7 separate regions of the Homo sapiens genome follow, and all the other regions are linked to region 5. Evidence: fine-mapped expression QTL. A gene starts in region 5. Each other region holds a variant in brackets. All regions are shown on one strand. Distances are between the middles of the regions.

Region 1 (4,071 bases), 130 kb after region 5:
TAGTTGTCAGTTGTCTGAAGCTGCTGACAGGACGGAGTGGCCTAGAAGGACAGAGCATAATGGTAGCTCTGTGGTAACCGCATCTCATTCCCATTTTATGTTGAATTTCAGTTTTCGTGGCCTCTGAAGATATGATTTGGTATGTGTTGGCAGATTGACAAGAGGGAAAATTTCCAGGGATGGAATCCAAGGTTGTCACTATTACTCCTGGAACATAAATATAGGATAATGGCCAGTGGGATTTCCCTATGGTCCACAGTAGTGTAGGGGAAATAGGATTCATCTAAGATATTCCCATCTGGCTAACAAGAAGGTGATATTTTGTTTCATTCCTACTATTACTCCTTGGGTGTTTGCTGTCTAGGGGCCTCTGTGGAGAGGATGGAATTTGTATATTCTTGCATCTCTAGCCAAATACCATCTAATTTCTCCTTAACCATGAATAAAGCTTTTACAGATACAGATATACTGGAGAAATCTAAAATTGGGAAGGGATGTGATGCAAGCACGTTGCAGTTTGGAGAACAAGCACATAAATTTTTGTCTGATGTAATTTTTGTACTTTGGAAGGTAACTGAGAAAGGGATAGGAACAGGCGGATCTTTAATTAAGTGAACAATTTTAGAAAGGAGAAAAACATTATGGAAATTGAAAAGAAATATTTTGGATTCTGACTCAGGTCCTGGTATGAGTTTGGAATGTTCTAATCTGTTCAGCATGAGCCAGAAATAGTTTCCTAAGGAAAAAGACACAGACTCCTCAAAGCCGATCTTGGCCTCCTGTTTGCTACCTCTGCATTTGGTGCACAGGTAGACCCATTTCTTTTCTTTTCTTTTTTGAGATGGAGTTTCACTCTTGTTGCTCAGACTGGAGTGCAATAGCACGATCTCAGCTCACTGCAACCTGTGCCTCCCAGGTTCAAGTGATTCTCCTGTGTCAGCCTCCCAGGTAGCTGAGATTACAGGCTCTTGACACCACACCCGGCTAATTTTGAATATATATATATATATATGTTTTTAGTAGAGACGGGGTTTCACCGTGTTGGTCAGGTTGGTCTTGAACTCCTGACCTCAAGTGATCCACCCGCCTCGGCCTTTCGAAATGCTGAGCCACTGCGCCAGGCCAGGTAGATCCATTTCTGATGGCTCTTCTACAGGTGTGGCCGGTTGATGTAATGAAATTCTAAGCTTGGTCCATGTGGCATTGCAGAGTGTGCCAGAGTTAATGTCCCATCATTCCTAGCCACAAAATTGCCCACCTTTTCCTAACCATGTGACCTTAGTCAGTTCTCAACTCTCTGGTCCTCAATTTCTTTCTTTTTTCTTTTTCTTTTTTGCTAGGCTTCCTGGGGTTATATCAACTGCTTTATTTATAAAACTGAGGGTGATAATATTTGCCCTGTAGCTTTATGAAGTTTTGACAGAAAGGGGTAATATAGCTAAAAGTGCTTTACAAATTGCTAAATGATACAAAGATGTAAGGAGTTATTAGTTAATCTGTACTAAAAGCATGACAAAGGAACTTGGGAACATTCCAGTCTAAATCAAAAGGCTCAAAGTGGTTATCAGCTGTCCTTAGGCAAGTTAGTAGGAGCAAGGTTACATTGTAGTTGGCCTCAGTGGTCAGTCAGACTGGAGTTTAAATCTTTGCTTTACTAATGTACAACTCAGTACTGTGAGCATCAGTTTCCTCATCTATAAAAATAGCTACAATAGCTACCTCACGTAGTAATTGTGAGGATTCAGTGAGGTATATGATGGAGTAACTTATACAACTATGTTCCTGTTACCTGCTTAGTGAATGTTGATTTTACTCCCCCAGCCATACATGGATGTCAGTATTTATTCCAGAAGCATGTGCAGTACATGAAAGGGCATCCAAGACACTGTGAACCACTTTTTTGGACCAGCCTGGCTCTTCTAACCAATCTGAAAAAGACAGAATTCAAGGCCTGCTGTACAAGCAGGAGGCAGCTCCCTCCCTTCCCCCTGCACCCAAATAAATATTGCATCTCCAACAGGCTTATTCCTCCTGGAAAAAGCATCACTCCTTCAAATGTGCTCCTTTACAACACAAATATCTCTTTAAGAAACACATTATTATTAACCATTAGCTCTTCAGCCTGAGTTAGAGAAGCATCTTAGAGACAGGGTCAGATTCTATTAGTGAGTTGGGAGACTATTCAATGTAGTCAAAATTACCATCAAATTGCCAGGAAATTCGACTACACATGGTTTTGTGTGTATGTAATGTCTAACACAGCTTTTCCTCAGTGTTGGAATAGATTGCTGTTTT[T/G]GGGTGAGCACCAGATGAAGCATTTGACTCGCATTCAGGGTTCAGGTTATACAAAAAAAAATTATTTTTATTCTGGAGGGTACAATTTAAGTCGAATTTTTTCAAATTAAATTTATGTTTGATGTCACTCACTGTACTTTACTGGGGTGAGCTAGCTGGTACAGGGCCCTAGTGGGATGGGATACCAAGCAGATATGTTTTAAAAGAGAAACAAGGTGGAGGGATAGGTCTGAATCTTGGATCATTGTTTAAAGAAGATGGGTCTGGTTAGGTGTTTTAGTCTGGTTAGGCTGCTGTAACAAACTGTCATAAACTGGATGGCCTATAAACAACAAACATTTGTTTCTCATAGTTCTGCAGGCTGTGAAGTCCAAGATCAAGGCACCAGCAGATATAGTGTCTTGTGAGGCTCTTTCCTTACTGGTGGGAGGGGCTAGCTACCTCTTCGTGGTCTCTTTCATAAGGGCACTAATCTCAATCAGGAGGGCTCTGCAATATTCAGATTGTAGCATCAGTGATGGGATGCTCTGGGAAGCCAGAGGGCAACAGGAGAACACTGGGGAGAAGGAGGGTGACTGAAAGGCAAGATGTTTCCAAAGACCTGTGCTTCCTAAATAGTAAATGCTCAACAAATAATTAAGTAAATGAATTAATTTTGACTGTTTGCAGAAAGTTTGTTCCGGCATGCACCCCCACCAGTGAATATAAGAATGCCTGTCTTTCAGTACCCTTCCTTGCATTAAATATTTGCTATAGTCTGAGCATTTGTGTCCCCGTCAAAATTCATATGTTGAAATCCTAACACCCAAGCCTCCAGGAGGAGATGAAATCATGATCTCATGATTGGGATTAGTGCCCTTGTAAAGAGACCCAGAGGGCGAACTTTCTCTTTCCACCAAGTGTGGGTGCAGGAAGATGGCGCCATCTATGAACCAAGAAACGGGCCCTCCCCAGACACCGATTCAGTGTCTTGATCTTGGACTTTCTAGCTTTCAGCACTGTGAGAAATAAATTTCTATTGTCCAGTTTATGGTATTTTGTAATTGCAGCCCTAATGGACCAAGATAATATTCTAAAAATAATTTCTGCCAATCTGATAGAATATGTTATTTCAATTTTATTGTTAATGTGCATTTTAAAAGACAAGTGCCAGACTCTTCATTTTGCAGAGTAGAAAAACAAAAAATAAGCTACTTCTATACTTGTCCTGATTTCAGCCACCTCAACCTACACTGCTCTGATGCCCACAACATTCTGTGTCAGTCATTGCCCTAAGTTGAGATTGTTTGACCCTAGCTGCCCCTTCAAAGGACTTGTCATTTTGACCTAGTCTGGGCTAATGTTGACTATACCCTAGGCCTGCTTCCAATTCGAACATGCCCTATCCCAAGGAGGTGGCTAACATCTACCTCACACAGACCCTCTGCTGAAGACACGTGCTGTCCCCCACTCCCCTATCCTCTTCTGACCCTCTCCCACTCTCTTTCCTTCTCTGCATATATTCAACTTCCACCCATCCCACAACTGCCAGCTCAAGCCCCTCTTCCTTTCAGGAGTGATTTCTTTCCCCATTGAATACATCATACTTATTGAGCAAGCTACTCATTTAACAAGACTATCAAGTAAGTGGCACAGATAATAATTATCTTTTGTAATAAAAGATTTATGCATGTAGTAGGCAAATGATAACAACAATGGTCTCTGGAGTTGATGAGAAGTTTATCACAGCAGCCTTGTTTCTCAGATGGGAAGGAAGAATTACAGCCCAGGTCCAAT
Region 2 (4,071 bases), 81 kb after region 5:
AGTTATATAGTTCTATATTATTTGATGCTTTTTAAAACCTAGATTTTCTGCTTTATGCATTTTCTCTATTTTTTTTAAGTATTTCTACCTTCCTTTTTGTTTGGCAGCAGAATTAATGGAAGTTGGAAGTACTCTGGAAAGATTAAAAAATGTTCTCAAAAGTCTCCCTCGTAAATTAGACTTTTAAGTTTTCAGTCCAGGATTCTGTGAGAACAGGCCAGATTTTCAGCTGCCAAAGACTTTTACCAGATCCCTGGCACTTGATTTAGGACAACTGGGAAAAATCATTTATTTTCATGAAAATAAATATTTTGAAGGGTGAAGAAAGTGGGAAATTAAATGTACATTGTTTGAATACCTTCTCTCGGTCAGGCACTATGTGCTAAGTACTTTCACACAGTTCTCACAACAACCGTGTGAGGAGATAGAATCCTATCAAACAGATTAAATTCATTCCCCAAGACTAGTTTATGGGCATTGAAAATGGAATCTGAACCTAGGATCTTTAAGTCCATGCTCTTTTTACTACCTATGAATCCTCTCCTTTGGTAGATGTAAAAAATAGATTAATGCTCTTTTTGGTTCCTCATATTTTTCTGATAATTGTTACTTCTTCAGGGCAGTCTTAACCTAAGACTTACCAGACACTCTATTCAACACCCTTCCTTGAAATTCCTTCTAATGTTATCTCCCATATCAAACTATGAACTTCTTGAAGGCAGGACCATATCTGTTGTTGCTCATCATTTTATTCCCAGTGTTCAACACATGGAAGACAATATCTGTTGAATAGGTAGTATGCACAAACAGACCACACAGAATGGGAAATATACTTAGTGCAGATTTTTGTAGTGTGGGGAATTTTGCAAATCTTAAATTGTTTGAACTATTGAGTAGGGAAAGGGCCAGATAACTTGTTCTTCACAATTTAGGCAAACTCCAATTGGTTCCTCTGTCTTTTTTTGATCCATTGTCCACATTGCTCTTGGAGCTTTCTAAAACACACATCTTTAAAAATATTCTGCGACTCACTTGTATATTGCAATTCCGTAGGCAACTTGCAAGGAAGCCCTTCAGAATCAAAAATCACCTTTTCAGCCTATTTCCCAGTACTCTCCTTTATACTCCGGCCATAGATAAGTATTTCATACATCTGAGAGATGCCATGCACTCTCATATGATCTATTCTTTTTAAACTCTCACTTCTTCAAGACCCAGCATTATCTGTAATCTTTTGAGTGACATCATCCTCAACTTTTCTAAGCAGTTACTTGCTTTTTTGTTGATTGCACTTTATATACTTTATGTAACTTGTAGTCTCCTGACCTCTTGTTATTTGTTCTGTCTACCTCCCTCATTTGACCTAACACTGAAGATAGGCCATGTTCCTTAATTTTTACTTTCTCACTTTTGCTGTCCTCAAACAGAATAACAGGAAATAAAAACAAAACCTGTGCCTGTTACAGGTATGTTGAGTGGATTCATATAACTGATAGATCTGACTTTCTCAGCATCAATGGTTGGTGTGCTGCTTCTCTTGAAACTCTTACAAATCCAGGAATTGGAGCTAGAAAGTGAGAAGGACTAGCTCAAGACATAAGAATAGGGAAACTGAGCACATTGAGGGTGGGGGGGATTCATGTGTTTTGTACTCTCAATGCCTGACATAGGAAAAGCTCTCATCATGAATGAATTGAACTGGAGATGACCTCACAACACAGGTGTTCAGGGGGATTACAGTACAGGAGCTCATCCCTCATTCACATGAATCCATGATTTGGATAAGGTTTCTAACTTGTACATAAAATATTTTGTGTTCGTTTAATGAGTTCCCATTGTTGAAGATCCCAATACCCCTCACTCCCTGCTCCCATAAATATCT[G/A]TAGAATGAGGTATTTAAAAATATTTTTTGTTTTTATGTTGATTTTTATTCATTATCCGATTTCTGACTCATTTAGTGTTATAACTGGCATTAAGTTAGAAATGGTCTGGATAAAGTTGCTGCTTTTTTGACATCTGTGTCTAGTGGAGCCTGGACACACTCACATGTACATACATACAACATGCAAAATAATGTAAGAGTATTTTCTCTTTCAGTATATAGACCATAGGAATTCAGACCTTAAAGTCAGATACATGCATCTAAAAGTATTAAAAGGGGCTGGGTGCGGTGGCTCACACCCATAATCCTAGTACTTTGGGAAACTGAGGCGGGCACATTACCTGAGGTCAGGAGTTCCAGACTAGGCTGGCCAACATGGTGAAACCCCGTCTCTACTAAAAATACAAAAATTAGGGTGGGGAACCCTATAATCCCAGCTACTCCAGAGGCTGAGAGGAGAACTGCTTGAACCCTGGAGGCAGAGGTTGCAGTGAGCCGAGATTGCAACACTGCACTCCAGCCCAGGCGACAGAGTGAGACTCTGTCTCAAAAAAATAAAATAGGCCGGGCGTGGTGGCTCATGCCTGTAATCCTAGCACTTTGGGAGGCCGAGGCAGGCGGATTGCCTGAGCTCAGGAGTTCGAGACCAGCCTGGACAACATGGTGAAACCCTGACTTTACTAAAATACAAAAAATTAGCCAGGTGTGGCTGTGTACGCCTGTAGTCCCAGCTACTCGGGAGGCTGAGGCAGAAGAATTGCTTGAATTCCAGAGGCAGAGGTTGCACTGAGCCAAGATCGTGCCGCCGCACTCCGGCCTGGGTGACAGAGCGAGACTCCATCTCAAAAATGAATAAATAAATAGCATTAAAAGGAAATGTGTTACTGTACATGGCAAGTGTAATTGAAACTTGCTCTAGTTGTGGTATAATTTATGAATTAAAGCTAACCAAGTTATTCATTGTCTTTTTTTTTCTTTCTGAGATGGAGTTTGGCTCTTGTTGCCCAGGCTGGAATGCAATGGTGTGATCTCGGCTCACTGCAACCTCCGCCTCCTGGGTTCAAGCGATTCTCCTGCCTCAGCCTCCCGAGTAGCTGGGACTACAGGTGCATGCCACCATGCCCAGCTAATTTTTGTGTTTTTAGTAGAGACGGGGCTTTACCATGTTGGTCAGGCTTGTCTTGAACTGCTGACCTCAGGTGATCCTCCCACCTCGGCCTCCCAAAGTGTTGGGATTATAGGTGTGAGCCACCACAACCAGCCTCATTGTCTTTTTTTTTTTTTTTAATTTAAGTTCTAGGGTACGTGTGCACAATGTGCAGGTTTGTTACATGTGTATACATGTGCCATGCTGGTGTGCTGTACCAGTTAACTCGTCATTTGCATTAGGTATATCTCCTAATGCTATCCCTCCCCCTTCCCCCACCCCATGACAGGCCTCAGTGTGTGATGTTCCCCACCCTGCGTCCAAAATGAAACTGGCTACTTGTGTCTTACTGTCTTTAGCAAGAATTCTAAAGGCTTTGCATAGCTGCCATGAGTTGGCTCTTGTTAAATTACAGTGGTTTGCTTTTTAAAAATATCTTTTTTAGCAGCAACAAAAAAGAAAATATATGTGGAACGGACTTGTATTCTCAATTAAGAATATCCACATAGCCAAATAATACATGAATTTTCAGAATGGGATGCTGTGAATTGTGTGAAATAAAGTACAGACTGAAAGAAAATTGATATGCTTGAGACATGTTTTGGGTAGATGTTATAGGTTCTTCCTGGTCCTTTTCAGCACAGTGTTTTCTTTTTTGAAGACCAGATTCTTTTTGTATGTTTGTATGATCTTCTCTTCAATAAGGCAATCTCCTGTAGTTGGGCTTGATGAAATTAAATTATGTTTTATTTATTTCAGAATAACCACAATCACTATAGAAAAAGGAGGGGATTTTTTCCTTTCCACTGTTTCTCCCTGCACCTGAACCATCAAAGGAGAAAACCACAGCTGTTCATGTTTTAGTACATTCTGATAAGACCAATTTATCTACCTAGCAAACAATTGTAAGCAAAAGTTTGAAGCCAGAGTGAATGTCCAACAATTATTTCAGGTCGGGATGGCACAAGACTACTAAATTGTGTGTTGGCAAAGTAGTGCTGTGTATCTGGAGTTGGAAGAAGAGAATGGGAAACAGATGCCT
Region 3 (4,071 bases), 86 kb after region 5:
ACCGTGAGTCAGTAGGGGAGAAATGTAGCTCTCTTCTTGGAGAATAGCTAACTATCAAAGATATTATCATTACTGTAATATTTGGATTGATTAGGTTAAAAAAAAATCAATTGGATCTCAACTACCCTTTCTTCAGGCATTAAAGAATTCTTCAAAATATTCCTATGGCCAGAAGCCATACTGTCAGGAGAAAAAGCAGCCATGCCACACTAGCGGCAAAATTAATATACAAATAAATTCAGTGCATGGGTCTTGAATATTTTTAGACTTCTGATAGCTTTATCAAGGATCGCTTTCAAATATAAGAATAGCTTAAAACTTGTCAGGTTAGTAACTTGTCACTTAGTAAAGGTGAATTTTGAAAGTAAGAAGGGAGTATTATAAGGAATCATAAGATATCATACTGGGTTTGATATTGTAAAGACTGTATTTCTACCCCTCCCCACCCCAGCTTGTTCTTTAATTGTCCCTTTGTCTCCCCCTCCCAGAAAGCTCTTGCTTATGCAACGAAGTCATAAAATTAGTTCTTTTTTTAAATGAATGTCTGCCTATTTTTCTCTCTCTTTGTTTCGAATATTGGATATCTAAAGCACAATGATAAAAGTTTTAAAAAGCTATTTCACTGCAATCTATCATTGTAACACATTAATTGTTTCTCTTGGGTTTCCAGTGAGTCTTTAGTCCTTTTAGCTTACACATTTATAAATGGATATGTACACAGCTGTATTCTTAAACCAAAACTGTCTGAGTGAGGTGCTTTGTGTGTGGGATCATACTTGCTCCCTGTAGCTCTGCTCACATGAACTACCATTATTAAAGTTTGGAATCAAGTACAGACCACTTGGTATCATCTGAAGCCATGTGAACCTCTGGCCATGGGAAAGACATTGGAACCCTTTAACTTACTCTTTACAGGCATCAGAGCAGCTGTCAAATGGTAATGTGTTTTTTTCCCTCATACTCAGGCAGGCTGGGGGCTTGGATGCCTAGTCTCACTCCTTTCCCTAGTAACTCCTCTTTATAATTTCTTCCTCAGAATGTATTTTGAGTGTGAGCTTGGATTCTGTAGGCCAAAGCCTGTTGCATGGTAAAATGAGGTTCATGACAGAATTATTAATGACAGTGGAAAAAATAGGTGATCAGAAGGTTCAGAAGTGGGAGAGTGTGTTCAAATAATGCATTTACAATATTTCAAAGTTTTAGGCTGGGCACAGTGGCTCACGCCTGTAATCCCAGCCCTTTGGGAGGCCGAGGAGGACGGATCACGAGGTCAGGAGTTCGAAACCAGCCTGACCAACATGGTGAAACCCCTTCTGTACTAAAAATACAAAAATTAGCCAGGCATGGTGGTGTGCACCTGTAATCCCAGCTACTCAGGAAGCTGAGGCAGGGGAATCGCTTGAACCTGGAAGGCAGAGGTTGCAGTGAGCCAAGATCGTGCCATTGCACTCTAGCCTGGTGACACAGTGAGAGTCCATCTCAAAAAAAAAAAAAAAGTATATATTTTGAAGTTTTAATAATGTGAGAAAATGCCCATGATTTAATATTAAGAGAAAAGTGGATATAAAGTTACACAGTATATATAGTCTGCTCTTACAAGCAAGAACACATACACACAAGTATATATAAAGAACTGGAAAGAAATACAGTCATCTTTTAACTGATTATATTTTGGTTGTAGGATATGGGTTACTTTTTTTCCTTACCCTTTTCTCTGTATTTTCTAAATTTAATATCAAAGATGTATATTACTTTCAACAATTCTAATTTTTAAAGTAAAAAAGTTTAAAATCTAAAATAATGACCTACAACAAATCATTTTATTACAGAAAAATGTTTAAATTCATGTTAATAGTTGTGTCCAAATTCAGAGCATTTTCATATGTGCAAAGTCTCTCAGGAAAGAGTTCACTTACGTTGAGCTTCAAAAGGGAGAGAGAATCAAAGCCTGAGAAGAAGAAAAAGTTTATTTGAGCAGTAAAAATATAGGGACCTCTGTTACTCTGGAAGTAGAAAAGAGGAATGAATGCTTTATGAATGATATGGGTTTAAAAGTTGGGAAGGAAGGAATCTGAGAAGCTCAGATTTCTTTTTCTTGCAGCAGCTTAAAGCACACTCAGCTTGTAGAGTAGTATGAAACCTCCCTGCATGCATTTACGTATTTCCTCCCCTTCCCTTTATAGGCACATATATAGACACACACACAGCTCATTAATTCCTTTAATTAAGAGAAATGGATTTTGTCTTCTATTAAGTACTTGCTTTGTTATACTCAATATGGCACCATAATCTTTGATCTTCCTTTAATATATTTCTTTGGAAATTTCACAACTAAGTTAATATCGAGACTGCTTCTTATGGATATTAAAATAACTTCCTAAACCTAGGTTCTGATATACGTTTTTAAATGATCAC[A/G]ATACAGTTTGCTGTAATGCATGTCAGAGCAGTTTGGTCTAGAATTGTCTTGTGACAGCAATTATAGCAAGATCTAATTCAAGCTCCACAAATCGAGAATTGTGATAATTTGTATTAATAATAGAGGTAAGAATGAATTTCACTATTTAAAAGATTAGAATTTAGGTAAATTTATAGCATATGTAAGATTTTATAGAAATATTTACCTAAGGGGTAGTTATTTTAACTGTCTATGTACAGCAGTATAAGTGAAGGCCACTCTGATGTGCTGGTTTCATATGGGAGAAACTATAATTAACCGAATGCATAATATATAGCCAGCAAGACAGTTTATATACAGTGTCATTTGGTCCTTAGAAGAATTCTTTGAAATAGATGATTTTCATCTCCGTCTTATAAGTATGAAAGCTGAAGTTCTAAGTTCAGTAACTCATCTAAGGTCACTTAGTAAGCTGCAGAGGCAGGATTTGAACACTGCTTGATCTGATTACTCAGTCCATAAACATTTCATGTATCACACAACTTCCATTCTTGTCCATTTATTGAAGTTGCCTTTTTATCTGCAACACTCCTCTTTACCTTGTATACTTTAAAGTGATTAAAATATCCTGTAAAAATGTTCCATAGTGGTTTTTTTATTCAATATTTTGAAGAAATGACGAATATCCTGAAATATGCCTTTGGTAAAATGAGCATTCCTTAGGTTGGCTTGATTTTGCCAAGCACTATTAGAAATTTTACTATTATTAAGAACCAGGATTCCCAGGCAAGATGTCCAAATAGGAACAGCTCCGGTCTGCAGCTCCCAGCAAGACCAACGCAGAAGGCAGGTGATTTCTGCATCTTCAACTGAGGTACCCCGTTCATCTCATTGGGACTGGTTAGATAGTGGGTACAGCCTACAGAGGGTGAGCAGAAGCAGGGTGGGGCATTGCCTCACCCAGGAAGCGCAAGGGGTCAGGGAACTCCCTCCCCTAGACAAGGGAAGCTGTGAGGGACCCTTCTGTGAGGGATGGTGCTATCTGGCCCAGATACTATGCTTTTCCCATGGTCTTCACAACCCACAGACCAGGAGATTCCCTCAGGTGCCTACACCACCAGGGCCCTGGGCTTCAAGCACAAAACTGGGTGGCTGTTTGGGCAGACATGGAGCTAGCTGCAGGAGTTTTTTTTTTCATACCCCAGTGGCACCTGGAACACCAGCAAGACAGAACCGTTCACTCCCCTGGAAACGGCCAAAGCCAGAGAGCCAAGTTGTCTTGCTCAGCGGATCACACCCACATGGAGCTCAGCAAGCTCAGATCCACTGGCTTGAAATTTTCGCTGCCAGCACAGCAGTCTGAAGTCCACCTGGGACTCTCCAGCTTGGTGGGGGGAGGGGCGTCCACCATTACTGAGGCTTGAGTAGGTTGTTTTCCCTTCACAGTGTAAACAAAGCCACCAGGAAGTTCGGACTGGGCAAAGCCCACTGCAGTGCCGCAAAGCCACTGTAGCCAGACTGCCTCTCTAGATTCCTCCTCTCTAGACAGGGCATCTCTGAAAGAAAGGCAGCAGCCCCAGTCAGGGGCTTATAGATAAACCTCCCATCTCCCTGGGACAGAGCACCTGGGGGAAGGGGTGGCTCTGGGCGCAGCTTCAGCCAACTTAAATGTTCCT
Region 4 (4,071 bases), 22 kb before region 5:
ATTCAAAGAACATATGGCTGTTTTTCATTTATTATTAACAACCATTTAATTAAACATCTCTAATTTTTATTTTTAGATAACTTACAATGGAACTTATAGTTGAGACTTGATCTTGTAAAAGATTTTTTAACTGTTAAAAAAAAAAGAACCCTTGGCTTAATTTGAGTTTGAGCATTTCAAAGCTGGTATTTGCAAACTCAGAAAAAAAGAGCTTTTCATTAATCCATGATTTTGGAAACAGTTACTTTAACCTGCAACCACATACAAATAGAAAAAATCCTAATGGGACTATTTTCTTACTAAGCCTGTAACAGTTTACATTCACCTAATGGCCTCGGGTTATGAGCAAACTACTCAATTAGAGAATTTAGGCTGGTTGCCCACATATTTTAGAGCAAATTATCCCTTCACAAACGCAGAACCCCCTATATAAAACGCCTAACCAGTATTTCCTGTAAAAAAATACTATTCCCTAAATTCCCACCTTGAACCTACTAAGAATTTCTCTTTTTGCTAGGGCAAAGATTTTATGGAAATATTTGTTTTTATATCACATACCTTACTATTGGTCTTCCTGCTGGCTTGCGTTTTGACCTTCAAGCAGCTAAGAAATTATAATCAAAACACTTCTAATAAGATATTTCTTTTTAAAGTACTTTAAGCTGAGAACCTTAAGTTGGAAGGTGTAGAATCCTGCAAATTCTTTGATAACAGATCTTCTGCTTGGGGGGTTAAATGAATTTCATGGTTATCCTTAACACTTACTATTTCTTCTTAGGCCTCTTCCATTCAAAAGGGGGTCGGTGCTTCCAATCTATAAACACCCATTAAAAGTTCTCCACCCTTTTATACTTGGCTGCTGGTCTTAATTGTCTGCAGATGGGTGGATCACTGCATTTTTTTTTTTTTTTTTTATTTCAAAGGTAGAGATTTGCAAAATGTAAACGAGCCTATTAAAAGTTCTAAATCAAGACTCTCAACATCCATTAAAAGGATCCATGTGTAAATAGGGACAGAACTCAATCGAAAAGTGTCTTTTTGTAACAAAAAATTTTCACTAATATCTAAGAAAAGTGTATATCACCATGAATGCATTACAAATGTATTCAACACAAACAGTGCTTTGCTAGAGGGCTACTTAAAAATTTCATGCAAAGTTTGAACTAAGGAAAAAAATATGTGCTTGCAAAACATTATTGTTTTATTTTATAACAGCTGATAGATAAGAGATGCAATGTAATTATCCTACATTATAAATTTTCATTGGGTTGAAAAGGAACAAAAGCTTTTGTTATATTTTCACAGCAGAATAAAAATTCAATACAATATAGACCTATAGTACGGACAAAAATATTTCACTGTATTTAATATAAAATCTTACAATGTGATTATTTTCAGTTCACCTACTGAATTATTGTTTTCTATGTTAGTCAAATTTCTTTTAAAAAAATGAACCGCAATTCACTGTATTGCTTGTGACTAAGAACTGAACCCCAGGCTAGCTGTTCTTGGCACTGTGGTGTTCTGGTTTATCTTGCCTGAGGCACTGACAGTTTATCTCAGATTCTACAGTTTCTTCCATTCTTCTTCCACTAGCTTTTCCCCTCAGTCTTGCTTTTCATTAGCCCACCCTGATGGTTGACCACTTCTAATCCATAAATTAAGCAGACAGAAAACACAAAGATGTGTTTCTTTTATCTTTGAAAATCAAACCCATCACAAACTTTATTTAATTTGATTTTCTTGGGTCTAAAATAAAATA[T/C]TCCTAGGAGCAAAAAATATTGCTAGAATCTCTGCTCTTAAAAACCAGCTTTATATACTCACCTTGCAGTGGAGGATACAAGGGAATTGCTTTGGCTTTATTCACTTTGGCTTTGAGCACCATAATCTGTGCCCAATAGTGAAATCAAGGTTTGAACATCTGACAGCTGTATTTCCCTCATCCTTTCTCTAAATGCAATGCAGAATTTATTTAATTTTGGGGGAATGGTGTTTCCCCCTACACTCCAGTTTTAATACACAGATTATAGTGACAATATTTAAAAGCTGTTTTGATCTTTGAGATTGTATTTTCTTTCATTTTTTACTTAACTTTTCTGAGTGTGACGAAAAGGGAAGCAGAAGTTGGAAATCTAAATAGAAACAAAAAAACAATTTCAGCTATTCTCCTTGAGCTTGCAAAAATGCATTTACAAGCTCTCAACAAAATTTTACTTTTAAAAGCCATTTTAATATTTGTTATCTTTTACCAAGTAAAATAAGCTGATGCTTTTACATGTGGATCTTATTATGTGAATAGCCGTCTAAGCCTGCTATTGAACATAATCATATGAATTACGAACTGTGACTTTATTTCTTTTATAATCTTTGTAGTTCTTGCCATTACTTTTACATGTCTATGTCTGGCATTATGTAGCTTTGAAACTATGCCAAAAATATTTATTGTCGTATATCTGGCATTCTCATACTTTGTGGGTGAGTTTGGTTTCCAAGCTGGGCAAAACTTATTAGCAGATACAGTTTTTGGCATTCGTTTGAAAAAAATCTTAAGTAATTTTAGTACCCCCTCAAGTATAACCTTTTGCACTCCTTGAAACATGTATGGAGTTGAAATTTCAATGCTTGAGATATCTCTTTTTCCAATTTTAAGTAATTATTCATTTATAAAGTACGAAAAATGGAACAAAAAACAACAAAAGGAAAAAGAAAAAATGAAATAAAAGAATGAATTTAACCGCAAACTGGAATATTTTGAAATATTCACATGGATGGTTTAGATAAAATATTTCTCTGACATGCAAATCCCAGAGAACTGGCACGGGGTACCATTGATACAGTGCAGTGCTAGTAACTTGTGGTTGTATGAAGTAACAATAATGATGAAAAGCAAAATATGTATGCATAATTCTTTTACTAATCTCTTTGCAGCTTTACTAGATTCTTTTTTTTTTTTGATACAGTGTCTTGCTCTGTCTCCCAGGCTGGAGTGCAGGGGCACAAACATGGCTCACTGTAGCCTCAACTTCCAGGGCTCAAGCAATCCTCCTGCCTCAGCCTCTTGTTAGCTGGAACCACAGGCGTGTGCACCATGCCTGGCTAATTTTTTTATTTTTTGTATTTTGATTTTTTGTAGAGACAGGATCTTACTTTGTTGCCCAGGCTGGTCTCAAACTCCTGGGCTCAAGTGATCCTCCCATCCTCCCACCTTAGCCCCCCCACAGTGCTGGGGTTACAGGCATGAGCCACCACATCTGGCCTAAATTCTAGTAAGAAGTGTGATAAAGATATTCAGTTCCTGCCATTGGTTTATATACCAGACTCCATCACTATATTGTTGTTCATTATGTTCAGGCATAGCACAGTACTCTTCATGTAGTTCATTCTCAATATACTTTTGTGTACATACAGTAACCTATTAGCACTATTTAAGATGGTATTAAGGTATTGTTAAACTGTTAAATGTTATTTTCTAAAAGAAGGTAACATCATGACTGTCATACAAACATAAAACTAGCACATATCAAAAATCCTTTTTAATGCATAATTAATGAGGGAACCAGTAAGATGTTATAAGTAGTTAAAAAAAGAATTCAAAGAACCACATACATAGGGGCAATAAGGAATGCTGAAAATTGATGCAGAATTAATCTATCCTGATAGCAATAATCAATTGCGTTATACTGGATAAAATCATTTGCATTTCTATGGACAAGAGTCATTTGTATTATCCATTTTCTATAATTTACAGAGTAGTAATAATACTTATACCACATACTTGGTAAAGATTATTTTGAGAATTAATATATGTATTTTTATATTTAGATATTCATTAATTTTTCTCAGCCAACAAATTCTTTTTGAATACCTACTATGTGTCAGGCACTGTATGTACTGCTGGTGATCAAAAACAGCACTCGTAGATCCACAGCTGAGTGATGAAGACAGACATTAACTAAATGATCATAAAAATAAATGTACAATTTAAACTGTGATCGGAGCCACAAAAAAGTCTACAGAGCTCTGAGAGAGTAAAATTTGAATAAGACAATCTCAATGCAAGTTAATTTTACT
Region 5 (4,071 bases):
CTGTATCCTCAGCACGTAACACAGGGCCTTGTCAATAAATATTTGGAACCACCCTGTAGCCTGAAGTCCAGCCACAATAGTGTGTATGTTGATTTCTCTGCTTGTAATGTCTTTCCCTCACTTTATTTGCTCGATGAACAACTATTCTTGATATGAAGGAGGCAGTGGCTTAGTGTTACCTTCAACAGTGTACATAATCTTTCTACATTTCAGTTTCCTCATTTGAAAAATGATACTAAAAAGGTTGTTGGGAGGATTAAAAGAGTTAATGATTAAATACTTCTCTCCCTTCTCTTTCCAGGTCAAATCTCTACTCTCGGTAGAGCAATTCCCTAGGGAATTTTATCTCAGGATTAGGTTTTTGGAATCTCGTGTATCCAGACAGCTCTTCTCTGTCCCCTTGCTACCCTTTTTTCAGAGGTGGGGTATCGCTTGGTAGCCCAGGCTGGAGTACAGACACTGATGGCTCAATTGAAACCAGAGGACACATTACTGGCAAGTGGAAAGCCGTTCTTCCCAGTCTTCTTAGGAAAGGAGATCTTTCTGCGGTGAGATATATTTGCAAAACTGCACAGGACTTTAATACTTTGCAACAGCAAAGGTTGAAAAACAAAACGGTTAAATTTCCACATCAAAACAGGTGAAATGTTTCTGTTCATTTTCTTCTACATTTGGAAAGTGCCTGATCCACAGTGACACGCTAAACTTCAGTTCCCTTCCCCTCATCCTTGCAAGTGTACAGAACTGTAACTAAATATTTAGGCAATTAGGGCAAGCAAATTGCACAGTGAATTATGCGGTAGCTTCTAGTATAATAAATTTTCTTACCAACCAAACAATGCTCAGTTGCTTCTCTTGACAACCTGTTTGCATCGTCAAAGTTTAAATGTAACATATTAAAACTATTACTCTTTAAAAAATCATTGAAACTTTTTTGTGTATAAATAAAAAAATAGAATAAAAATAAATAAAAAATAGAAAAAAACCCATGAAAAATGTTTGCACATGGGGTAAAGCATGTAAAAGGGGTAAAGCATGATAAAAACCTTCGCTGAAGTTTCCCTGCTCACACATTACTGTGTGCACGTCTAGTCTTTTTCTCATTCAGGCATCATTTGTTATTTGTCTTTTCCAGTTGAGGAGGACACTTAATACCGTTTCGGCAGCGTTTCAAATCCGAGTCAAATATAGCCTGAGTGGTTTTTTTGTGGGTCCACCTATCAGGGCCTGTGAAGAGTGTTCTTGGGGTTAAGAGTTCTAAGATAGAAAACTCAGCTTATGCTGTTACCCGCAGGTTTTAAAGCAACATGATACGGCGTTTGAAGCTTACCTCACACCGGTGAGGTAAGCGTCCAGTCATCAAATGACCCTTTTTGACGTCCAAGAGTGACAGAGCCTCAAGCACTCCTGGGGACCGGGCTGACTTTTCTCCACTGGCTTGGTTGGGAACTGGCTTCTTCGGAGCTGTGTAGTCTTAATTTGCTTTGCTGCTGGCTGGCTGACAGCTGATGGGGGACTCCTCAGGACGGACTCCCTTCCAGATGCACCCATCTCCATCCTTCTCAACTCCCCAACCTTTGTCCTCCCCACTCTTCGCTCGCGCGGCGGTCTGAGACCACCAGGACCAGTTTCAGGGGTTTCCTTCTCCAGCGAGACTTGGCAGAACAGGCTTTAAAAGCAAAGGAGGCAGCGGAAGAGTAAGAAATAACTATATTCTAAGAGTCATAATAAATGGCAGTACATAACTGCGACACGACACCGAGCAGCCTAAGCTGGCTGCGGAGGCCACAAACACAAGATCCTAACCTCCCGGCCGACCCGCCCCAACAACTACCCGCCCAGGGTACGGTCACGTGACGGGGGAGCGGCGCGCGCCGACCGCGGCGCCAATTGGCGAGCGGCTGGAGCGCGGGGTTTCATGGGAAGGAGTTGGCCCGGCTTGTCTCTCTGTCAGTGGCGGCTGCTGCCTGCTCTGGAGGCAGGCTGGGCGGTGGCGGCCGAGACTGGCGGGGGTGGACGCCCGGGCCGGGCTGCGCCCGCTTCTTGCAGGTAGAACGCTCAAGGCGAGGGCAGTTGGGAGGGCTCTGCAGCGGGGAGGCATGCTGAGCTGTGCCCCTGGGAAATAAGCTGCGGGTTCCCCGCTTGCCTCTCCTTGGTGCCCCCGCCTCCTGCCAAGTGGCCTAGAGCTCTGCGGCGGCTGCTAGTCAGGCTGCGCGGTGGTCCGCGCAGACCCAGGCTCGCCGCCTTGTTCCCTGGATTTCCCAGCACACTGGCAGTGGTGGCGCTGGAGTCTTGAAACCCTTGTTTCCCCTCTAGGGCTGGTAGTTTCTCCAGCTCGGTTCTAGGAGATTCCGGGTGGTGACTGGCTTGAGCCCCAGCTCTTTGGCCCACTTGTGTCGAGCTTATCTCGACACAGGTGGGGCAAAGAGGTCAGAAGGTCCCAAACTAGCATTTCCTACGCTCAGCTGTCCGCTTTGAGCGTTCTCTCCGCTTCTCTTTCTGAGTTGTGCGGAGGCTCCAAGAGTTAGAAAGACCAGAAGGGACTGAAAACTGTCAGTGTCATGCTGCCGGGCTCTAGCGTGTGGGCGTGGAGTACGTGCTACTTAGAGAAGAGACTCTCCAACCATTGTCCTTATTTCAGGGATGGTGGGCTGTGGGGTGGAGGGGAAGGGCGAAGGTGCATTGTATCAGAGGCGTGGTAGGAGGAGAAAAACAAATCTAAATTCCGTCAGTTCATAGTTTACGGATTGAGAAAGAGTTGAAATTGGTCAACTCAGCTTTGCTGATGGTGCTTTCACAGTACTAAGCAAGACCCGTGAATCACTGAGTTTTCCGTGTTCTGCTTTTCCCAGTTGGCCTCCGGTGTGTGTTGCTCGGTGTCTACTGTTTCCTCCTTTCTTTATGGCCTGGGTGTCAGCATTGACAAAATTGACTCTATTCAACAGCGGTTTGGTGGGTGTGAGTAAGCTTGGTTTCAGGAATATGTTCAAACTGGCAGGGAATGCTCATTTCTTTTCCTCAGCAGCCCCCAGAAGACCAAGTTGACTTTTAACACATTTTCTTAAACAGGAGTGGTGCGTTTAAATTAGAATTTTAAGGTTGTCTGTTATCTATTGAGATCAGCTCAGTAATGATGTTAGTAAACTTATATAGTGTTTATATGTTATATAAACAAGAAAATACAAGAAAAGGAGAAGTTATATGGCTATTAAAAATATATGACTTCACATAGAAACATTTATAATCAAATAGTAATTTTTTGGTGGTATTTAGTTCAGATGAAAATTGACTTACCATGAAAGCAAGCACTAATCATTATATATTAAGAGTGCTTAATATATAATAGAGGTGTACTTTTCATTAAAATTCTTTTTGAGGAGCAATAAATGTGGCTTGGGCTATTTCAGAATTGTCTTTTCAGTTAGGACATTTGAAAGTTAGAATTCTAGAATAAATCACCTTTACTCTTCAATTGTATAGTATAATATGTTATGGAGGTACTGTTGATGGTGATTAAATAGCTTATACTTAACTTTGGAATTTGATAAACATAGAACTTCCTTTGCTGTTTCCTTCAAAGACCTACAAGGTTATTTAATGGCAGAGTCTACAGAATTTTTTGCTCTATTTCTTATACTAGAGAAAATGAGAGCAATCTATTTTTGTAAAAATACAAACTAATATAATTTTCCAATTTTAGAATTATGAAATAGGTGCTTTCTTTATAAGAAGTTAGAAATGTGTTTCATATAAATACATGTGTTTTCTGGTAATAATAATGGCTACAATTAAGCAGTTACTACTATGTGTCGGACACTGTGCCAAATGATACATAATTTCATTTAATTTATACAACAATTCTATGAAGTGTAGATATTTTTACCATTTTGCAAATGCAATAACTGAGGCGTGCAGAGTTTAAGTAATCTGCTCAAGATTGCATAGCTAGTATGTGGTTGAGCCATATTTTGAATCCAGATCTATTTTATTGCATTATTTTAATGTGTCTTGGAGTGAGGTGAAAATTTAAGAAAAACATTTCCCAAGATTTAAAATTCTGACACCCAAACC
Region 6 (4,071 bases), 31 kb after region 5:
AACCTGAAGTGGAATCTGCTAAGATGTACTGTAACTACTGCTGGTAAAAATATGTAACAGAAAAAGACTTAGTTGTACAAATTGTACAAAACTTTTGAAACTGTAAGGTGTTTACAGTCTATGGTTATTCATTGTATTATTCAACAACAGGTACTTCACAGAACATACTTGAATTTGTCATTTTGTAGGGCCAAAGGGAACTTCATTGCTCTCATGGACTTAACCATTGTCAGTTATGTGAATTTCAATCATGAATAGAAGCTATCTTGACTTGCCTCACAGCAGTTTGATGGCTTAGCAATGGCAAAGTTTTATTGTCATATTTTGAGCTCAAAACCTAGATTGAAATACTTCAAATGAGAAGGACCATCTTCAGTCACTGTGTTTGAATACTGACTGGCTTTGGAAATTAGCTTTTGCTACAGCCTTGATAATGGTTCTTAATTAATCCAACCTAAGATTGCAAGGCAAAACAATGTATATATGCAAAACCTATAATGTGGTGAAGTCATTTAGAAAACAACATTGTAATGACAAGTAATTTTTTTTAAAAGTGCTATAAAAATGGAAACAAGAAGCAGGATTGCCATTCCCACACAAATTTGTAGCAGATGCATTATCCGAGGTGAAATTATAGTTCCAGTAGAATTTTTCAGACCTCAAGGCAAGTGCAAAGGAAATTTCTGTGTTTCTAAATCCATTTCACTGTATAATTGAAGAGCTTCAGTCTTTGATTGGAGGTGATTAACTTCCAATGTAATAATACTCTAAAAGGCAAATGCCAAGAGAAGAATCTAATAGAATTTTATAAATGCCTTTCAAACTAGTGAATATGCTCAATTAAAATCCTATGCCTGTGGATTGATATCAGTATTTGGCAGTAACTACCTCTGTGAAAAGACATTAAAAAATCAAATATGTAAAATCTCATTACAGATCAGCATTAATGGATTATCATTTGCAATCAGTTTTGATGATAGAGAACACTTAGCTTTGAACCTCAATTAAGTGAAATGTTATCCACCCCTGAAAGTATTACATTCTTTTCCCTGGTAGACTTATATTACAAAAAATTGAACTCAATTATTATATAGGTTGAACATCCCAAATCTGAAAATTCAAAATCTGAAATCCCCCTAAATCCAAAATTTTTTGAATGCCAACATGATACTCAAAGGAAATGGTCCTTGGAGCATTTTGGATTTTGGATTTTTGGATTTGAGATGCTCAGCTGGGGTGTATTCTGCAGATATTCCAAAATTAAAAAAAAAATTGAAATCTGAAACACTTCTAGCACCAAGCATTTCAGATAAGAGATACTCAACCTGTATTTGAATTTAGTCTATAAAGTTTGTGGAAATTTTGTATTTCTTTTGTATTTCTTAGGCTGGGCTCAGTGGCTCATGCCTGTAATCTAGCACTTTGGGAGGCCAAGGCAGGTGGATAACCTGAGGTCAGGAGTTCAAGACCATCCTGGCCAACATGGAGAAACCCTGTCCGTACTAAAAATACAAAAATTAGCTTGGTGTGGTGGTACACGCCTGTAATTCCAGCTTGGGAGACTGAGGTATAAGAATTGCTTGAACTCTGGAGGCAGAGGCTGCAGTGAGCCGAGATCATGCCACTGCACTCCAGCCTGGGTGACAGAGCAATACCCTGTCTCAAAAAACAAAAAAATACAGACTTGATTTTGCTTTTTGGCCCATAAAGCCCAAAATACTTACTTTTTCCTTTACAGAATAAGTTTGCTAACCCTTGGATTAAAGTACAGATGTTTGGCTTGGTCTTATCTAACAAAAAATTACTATTCTCTTTGAAGATGTTAGCAGATTTCCTCTGCTTTTAGTAACAAGTTAGCTATCACATTAAAGACTGCTTAATCTATTTTGAAAAAAGTTTTATAGTAAAATCATCTTTTTATATGTTTGTGTTTCCTTGAA[T/C]TTTTACATAAATGATGTACTTTGAGTTGGGTATTCAGGTATTTGTTACCTAGAATTTCAGTGAAGAAGTAATAATTTTATTTATAAATTTAATTAAGTATTAAGAACAGTTATTTACATTTCATTTGATAATATTCAAGCCATAAGTTCTGCTTTCCTTAGGGAATAGTGTTTCAATCTGTATTAGTTAAATATTTCTAGAGAAAAACTAGAAACTTAAATAATTTGTAAATCAAACATTGACATTCATAAAAGATATCCTCTGAGGTGATTCTTTCTGTTCCACCATGCCAACCTATATAAGCGGGCAAATCTTAGAAATGTTTAATTTTGGAAAGTTATTAGTATTTTTTTCCATGTCCCTTCTCAGATGCAATAAGGTAGATTTTCTAGGTTTTTTAAAAAGTCGTGCTTAATATCTTCAGGCTTGACTAAGTAAAATATGTATTTATTTCCTTATAAACAAAGAGAACATTTTTATTACCAGTGTATAAAAAGAGATTTGATACTAATTTTGTAAATTAATGTGGGTGAGGTGTTGAAAGGAAAAAGAAATAGTAGAAAGTAATGTTTCTGAACACATTAAAAAGTATTTGTATATATTTCAATTTAGAAAGGTGCTTTATACTATGTAAAGTCAATTTTTCACCTCAATGGCCTATAATATATAATACAGGCAAAAATATGAACTATATGTGGGTGAAGATGGAGATAATTTTTGTCTCTACACATCAGTTAAATTTTGAAAAATCCTAAAATAAGAAAGTTTTCTTGTGTTTGCTACCGTGTGTCATTTGGCGTGATTTTTTCTTATATCTAAATATCTTAATCTTTGATTTAAATCTTGCTTTCTAGATGAAGCATTGGATGATTTAAAATCCCAGAGGAAAAAAATAGTAAGTTAACTTTTATTTAAAATTAATTTATATTAAACTAATAAGAACTGAATAATTAATGTTTATGTGTTGGAAGTTAATAACTCTCCAAGGAAGAAATATGCTTTTAGATAGCATTTTAATGATGAAGTGAAATTGTGAATATTTTTGCTAGTTAATAATGATTGACAGGAAAAAGTAGTTTAGAAGGACTTTTGAGATTCTGAGAATCTGTATCAGTTGGAAGCTGAGAAGTAAGTAAATGAGTCATATTGGAGGCCTAAATGAGGCAGAGAGGGTAAAAATGTGGGTACCAGATTGTTTATTAGAGCTAAATAAAAAAGGACAAAATATCTCCACGTGTCAGTTCTCAGGTTTTCTTGACACCAAGAAAGAGAGGGAATCAAGAAGATCGGTTGTAAGAGAGCAATTCAACATGAAAATACTGAAGAAGAGATGGGAGAGAGAGAGAGATAATTGTTTTCTTCAGAGTTTTCCACTTTCTATCAGTAACTCTGATCACATGGATATCTATTGTGGGGCTAGTTGATGCATCCCTTCAGATGTGTTGGAAAGAGGACCAAGAGTAAGACAGAAGGCGCTCTAGATATTGATACATAGTAGTCTGTAATAAGTGAATTGAAGTTGGTGTTTGACATAGAGCTACTAATTTTTTAATGATTATTTTTGAAGTGTGAAAATGATAACTGCTGATAGTATTATGTTGTATAGAAATGTATTTAATAAAATTTAATCAGGTACAAATGATCAATTCAATATATTTTAGTCTAGTATGTAACAAGTAATAATTAAGAAACCAATATTGTGAAGGTTAAGACTAATGTTAAAAATTATTCTGTGAATTGATGATAATAGATACTGGTTTTAAGGGCTTTAAGTACCTGAAAAGTAAGAGAACTTTAATTTTGAAAGGATTCCTTAGCTTTGTTTGCTCCTTATTGGGTGTCCTGTGAGGTATTTATCAAAACTGCATTGGCAATTTTGGTGGTCCTAAATTGCCAAACACAGAAATATCTTATTATTATGTTTCTGCTATTCTGCACATTATGGAACAGCCAGAAATTCAAAGTGAGGAAATACTGATGGTGTCAGTGATTTAGAAGTTGTGATATGATTGGTTTGACTTGCTGATGAGATAAAAAGAAGAGCTGGTACTGGTGATCAGAGACAAGTCCTGCTTATACCAAAATGGAGAAATATTAGTTAAAGTAGAAAAGATGAAGAGGAAGACAAAG
Region 7 (4,071 bases), 21 kb after region 5:
GCCATAGGAACAGAATACTCTTTGTAAATAGTGCACTTCTGAATAATTTCTTTTTAATTCCTGCCTTCTCTCTTTTTTTATTGGAACCAAACTGAGGAGTGTCTGCCTGTAGCTGTGCATCTTGTTCTCATTGTTACAAACATGGGTTTTAAGTTTTACACTTGGAAAAGTTTACCTTATTACCTCTTTGTGAAATATGCAGTTTTCTTGTTTTGCTTCCACTTTTTGGAGCCCCTGTGTAATAATCTCCATTGCTTTTGAGAGTGCCTCCACATATTCTGATGGTTGAGTTTTAGTTATATCTCTGTTTTACCAGAGAAGTAGTTTGCAGTTTTATTTTTATTCTCCTTGTTGTTTGGATTATTTTTATGAAGAGAAGGGGGAAGTGGATCTTATGCCACTATTCTCTAACTAGAGGTTAGTAATAATATCCTTAATATCGTCAATATCTTCACAAAATATGTTGCTATATTTTAATACATTATTTTTAATTATTGGGAGAGCAAAACCTTTGTTGGGATAACTAAAACAGAGTCCTGAAGTACTTTAGTTCTTTTTCTAAATTTTATTTAAAAATATAAAAGGGCTAGGCATGATGGTTTATGCCTGTAATCCCAGTGCTTTGGGAGGCAGAGGCAGGAGAATCACTTGAGGCCAGGAGTTCAAGACCAGTCTGGGCAACATGGTGAGATCCTGTCTCTACAAAAATAACAAAAAATACCAAAGAATTTCATTTAATTTAGCCCTAAAGAAAAATAAATTCTGTTTTACCTTTTGAAGTCTTGAAGACTTGACATATGGAAATGTCTGTTGTTTGATAGCTTATGTTATCTAGGAGGAATTCTGATAAAAACCAGAGGAATTTATTGTCCACAGAGAGGATTTAGTGAGTTTTATTTTGAAGAGAGTATATTTCAATTTTTGTAGTATTTACACTGACAATTATATATGCTTTTTAAAAAGTATCTACTCATTTAAGAAAATTTATACATTTCCTACAGAATTCTAGCCACTATCTCTGCAATTCCATCTTTTTTTCCCCGTTTTCTTTCTCTGTATGCTTTTTAAAAGTCCTCCTTCCAGCCTGCTACTATTTCAGTGGGTTTGCACTGGAGAAGTGATACGAGACTTTTTTATTATTGCGGAATCCTTGAGGGTTATGGGCATTATGCTTAACCTATATTCTCTTATCTCCCTTCCCTTGGTAAGGACAAAGCCTGGTGTTTTTTGTACTTTTAGGTAATTGTCCAAATGCCAAATAGGAATCTGGTGCTAGTTATTTGGTGTTTTCATGTCACAAAAATAAATCATCACAATATTAAAAAAAAGTGTATTATCTATTCCTGTGTAACAGATTGCCCCAAAACTTAGTAGCTTAAAACAACAGATGTTTATTATGTCTCAGCTTTTGAGGGGCAGGAATGTTAAGAGCTGCTTAGCTGGGTAGTTCTATCTCAGGATCTTTTGTTCTTAGGTAAATTGCAGTTAAGCTGTTGGTAGGGGCCACAGTCATCTCAAGGCTTAACTAAATCCATACAATCACTGTAGATAAAGTCATTGCAGATCTTTACTCCCTCTGCTGTTATCCAATCTCCAGCTCACTGCTCGGTAGGCATTTGCAATTCCCCTGACTTTCTTCATTCTGTTCTTGTGTTCCTTTTGCTTTTTTCTTGAGGTCTTTTTCTTTTCATATAGGCTGTTTTTTGGCAAGCCTATGTTTAGTTTCCTTTTTCTTTGTATAATCCAGGAATTTACATGCCAAAGCTAATTGTCTTGCCACCACCAAAATGCATTCTGAATTCAAATCCCAATAAGATATCTGGTGTGATCCTACTCACTTTGGCTGATTTTTCCCTAATCTACTCCTAAATTCACACAGGTGGCTGTTAGCAGGCATCAGTTCTTTGCTGAGTGTTTACCACAGACCTTTCTTCCTCACTGCATGGACCTTTTCATAGACTTCTTTGACTGTTCTCATATCATGACAGCTGTCTTCTCACAGAGCTTGTAATCCAGGAGAGAGAAAGACAAGTGAAAGAGGAGGCCCAAAATGGAAGCTGCAGTCCTTTATAACTTAATCTTGAAGTGATACACTATCACTTCTGCCATGCTGTTGGTGGCACAGACCAACACTGGTGAGAGAGGACTACACAATGGTGTGAATACCAAGAGACAGGGATCACTGGTGACTACTTGCAGGTTAACTCCCCAAAATAGCAAATGCTGTATTTCAGAGTGAAGAACTAATTTTCATACTTATATTCTGAATTTATTTCCAGTACAATCAAATTTTTTTTTACAAGAGATACAATGTATGTTTTAAGATGATGAATAATGTTTATATACTTCTTTCTTTCTTTTTTTTTTTTTTTTT[G/TG]GGACAGTCTTTCTCTGCCGCCTAGGCTGGAGTGCAGTGGCATGATCTTGGCTCACTGCAACCTCTGCCTCCTGGGTTCAAGTGATTCTCCTGCCTCAGCCTCCCAAGTAGCTGGGACTACAGGCGTGTGCCATCACGCCTGGCTAGTTTTTGTATGTTCAGTAGAGATGGGGTTTCACCATGTTGGCCAGGCTGGTCTCAAACTCCTGACCTCAGGAGATCCACCTGCCTTGGCCTCCCAAAGTGCTGGGATTACAGGCGTGAGCCACCGTGCCCAGCCTTATGTACTTATTTCTGCCAGGTTCTATGGAGAAGAGGTATTTTGCTATGTTTACATTGAATTTAGGAGATGACCCTGACAAGTTTGTGATGAGGATTATTCATTTAGTTTCTTTTAATTCTTTCAATTCATTTGATGTCTTACTAATGCAAGGCCTAAAGAATTATCCTTATAAAATCTTTGGGAGGAGATATTTAGCTAATTTTACTCATCAAGTATTTATTTGAAGGTAAGGTTTTTGTTTATTTTTCCTTCAGGTAGCTTAATCTCTTAGAGTAGAGACTGTCCCTCTATTGTTAAATAATAGGGAAGGAGTGGCAACTTACATTTGTATAATGCTCTTACATTTGTAAAAGCATTTTTCCTTAATGTGTGGGAATAGACAAATTAAGTTTTTGGAATTGATGCTTACTTAGTAAGGGATTCTAATATTCTCAATCTTTTGCGGGGTGCATAGATTCCTTTCAGGCTGATGAAAGCAATGGTCTTTCCAGAGAAATGCACTTATGCACACAAAGGTAATTTTGTAATTTAAGGGGATCATCAGAAGGTCTGTGGACTTTAGGTTGAGAACTCCTCCTTTGAAAGCACAGGTTCTGATGTTCTCTGGCAGAAATAAACGCTTTTTAGTTTTCTGTATATAAAGGGAAACAATGTACCTAACTCTAATTGGAAATATATGTTTTCATTTTACATGGCTTCTAATTCGCTTTTTCTAATGATGTTTTTTGTTTCTGAATTTTGCTTCCCTTTTAGCATCTGGAGCATAAGAACAGTAATTATTTTCTTCTTTTCCAAGAGAACAGAAAGAAATAGTAAGTTTAATTCCAATTTTTAATAAATATTTTTTAAAATACCTATTTTAGAATGTGCTGGTAAGACAGGTTGTAAAATATGATATTGGAATGATAATGTGTTAAGTATTGAAGAGTTGTTTATTATAAAGCATGAGAAAGGTTATAAATGATCAAGATGGTTCTGTTTTTAATTTGTGTTATTTCCATCTTGTTCATTTAGATTTTTTTTTACACAAAACAAACTTTTTTTTTTTTTTTGAGACAGAGTCAGGGGCATAGGAAGAGCCTGTCGCCCAGGCAGGAGTGCAGTGGCACGATCTCGGCTCACTGCAACCTCCGCCTCCCAGGTCAAGTGATTCTTGTGCCTCAGCCTCCAGAGTAGCTGGGATTATAGGTGCGTGCCACCACTTCCAGCTAATTTTTTGTATTTTTATAGAGACAGGGTTTCACCATGTTTCCCAGGCTGGTCTCGAACTCCTGAGCTCAGGCAATCCGCCTGCCTCTGCCTCCCAAAGTGCTAGGATTACAGGCGTGAGCAATGGTGCCCGACCAAAACAAACATTTTTAAATAAAGAGAATTTATATTTGTTAAATTAATCTTTATGGAAAACTTGGTTTGT

Direction of the effects. Alleles are on the strand shown, and positions count from the first base shown. SD is a standard deviation of normalised expression in the study named. Not every link is listed here.
With allele A in place of G in region 2, the expression in anterior cingulate cortex of the gene that starts at base 1,942 in region 5 is higher (small effect, 0.33 SD a copy in GTEx).
As copies of G replace A in region 3, the expression in CD4 T cells of the gene that starts at base 1,942 in region 5 goes up (moderate effect, 0.49 SD a copy in Kasela 2017).

Evidence for each region. PIP is the estimated chance that this variant, and not a neighbour inherited with it, causes the effect.
Region 1: its variant is the best candidate, but not a certain one, in a credible set for the expression of LNPK in aorta (GTEx, PIP 0.62).
Region 2: its variant is the best candidate, but not a certain one, in a credible set for the expression of LNPK in anterior cingulate cortex (GTEx, PIP 0.51).
Region 3: its variant is the best candidate, but not a certain one, in a credible set for the expression of LNPK in CD4 T cells (Kasela 2017, PIP 0.72).
Region 4: its variant is the best candidate, but not a certain one, in a credible set for the expression of LNPK in T cells (TOPMed, PIP 0.73).
Region 6: its variant is the best candidate, but not a certain one, in a credible set for the expression of LNPK in whole blood (INTERVAL, PIP 0.88).
Region 7: its variant is the best candidate, but not a certain one, in a credible set for the expression of LNPK in monocytes (Quach 2016, PIP 0.52).

The regions. Positions count from the first base shown.
Region 1 is chr2:175,868,095-175,872,165 of GRCh38, reverse strand. No RefSeq gene overlaps it. Among named protein-coding and RNA genes, the nearest start is that of LNPK, 130 kb to the left of the region's middle. The variant T/G (reference allele first, on the strand shown) is at 2,296.
Region 2 is chr2:175,919,537-175,923,607 of GRCh38, reverse strand. No RefSeq gene overlaps it. Among named protein-coding and RNA genes, the nearest start is that of LNPK, 81 kb to the left of the region's middle. The variant G/A (reference allele first, on the strand shown) is at 1,883.
Region 3 is chr2:175,913,867-175,917,937 of GRCh38, reverse strand. No RefSeq gene overlaps it. Among named protein-coding and RNA genes, the nearest start is that of LNPK, 86 kb to the left of the region's middle. The variant A/G (reference allele first, on the strand shown) is at 2,416.
Region 4 is chr2:176,021,724-176,025,794 of GRCh38, reverse strand. No RefSeq gene overlaps it. Among named protein-coding and RNA genes, the nearest start is that of LNPK, 21 kb to the right of the region's middle. The variant T/C (reference allele first, on the strand shown) is at 1,763.
Region 5 is chr2:176,000,138-176,004,208 of GRCh38, reverse strand. It overlaps LNPK (lunapark, ER junction formation factor), which reads left to right and starts at 1,942. Exons shown (of 13, transcript NM_030650.3): 1 at 1,942-2,049. RefSeq lists an enhancer at 1,529-1,748.
Region 6 is chr2:175,969,529-175,973,599 of GRCh38, reverse strand. It overlaps LNPK (lunapark, ER junction formation factor), which reads left to right. Exons shown (of 13, transcript NM_030650.3): 6 at 2,796-2,836. Among named protein-coding and RNA genes, the nearest start is that of LNPK, 31 kb to the left of the region's middle. The variant T/C (reference allele first, on the strand shown) is at 1,941.
Region 7 is chr2:175,979,208-175,983,278 of GRCh38, reverse strand. It overlaps LNPK (lunapark, ER junction formation factor), which reads left to right. Exons shown (of 13, transcript NM_030650.3): 5 at 3,411-3,469. Among named protein-coding and RNA genes, the nearest start is that of LNPK, 21 kb to the left of the region's middle. The variant G/TG (reference allele first, on the strand shown) is at 2,375.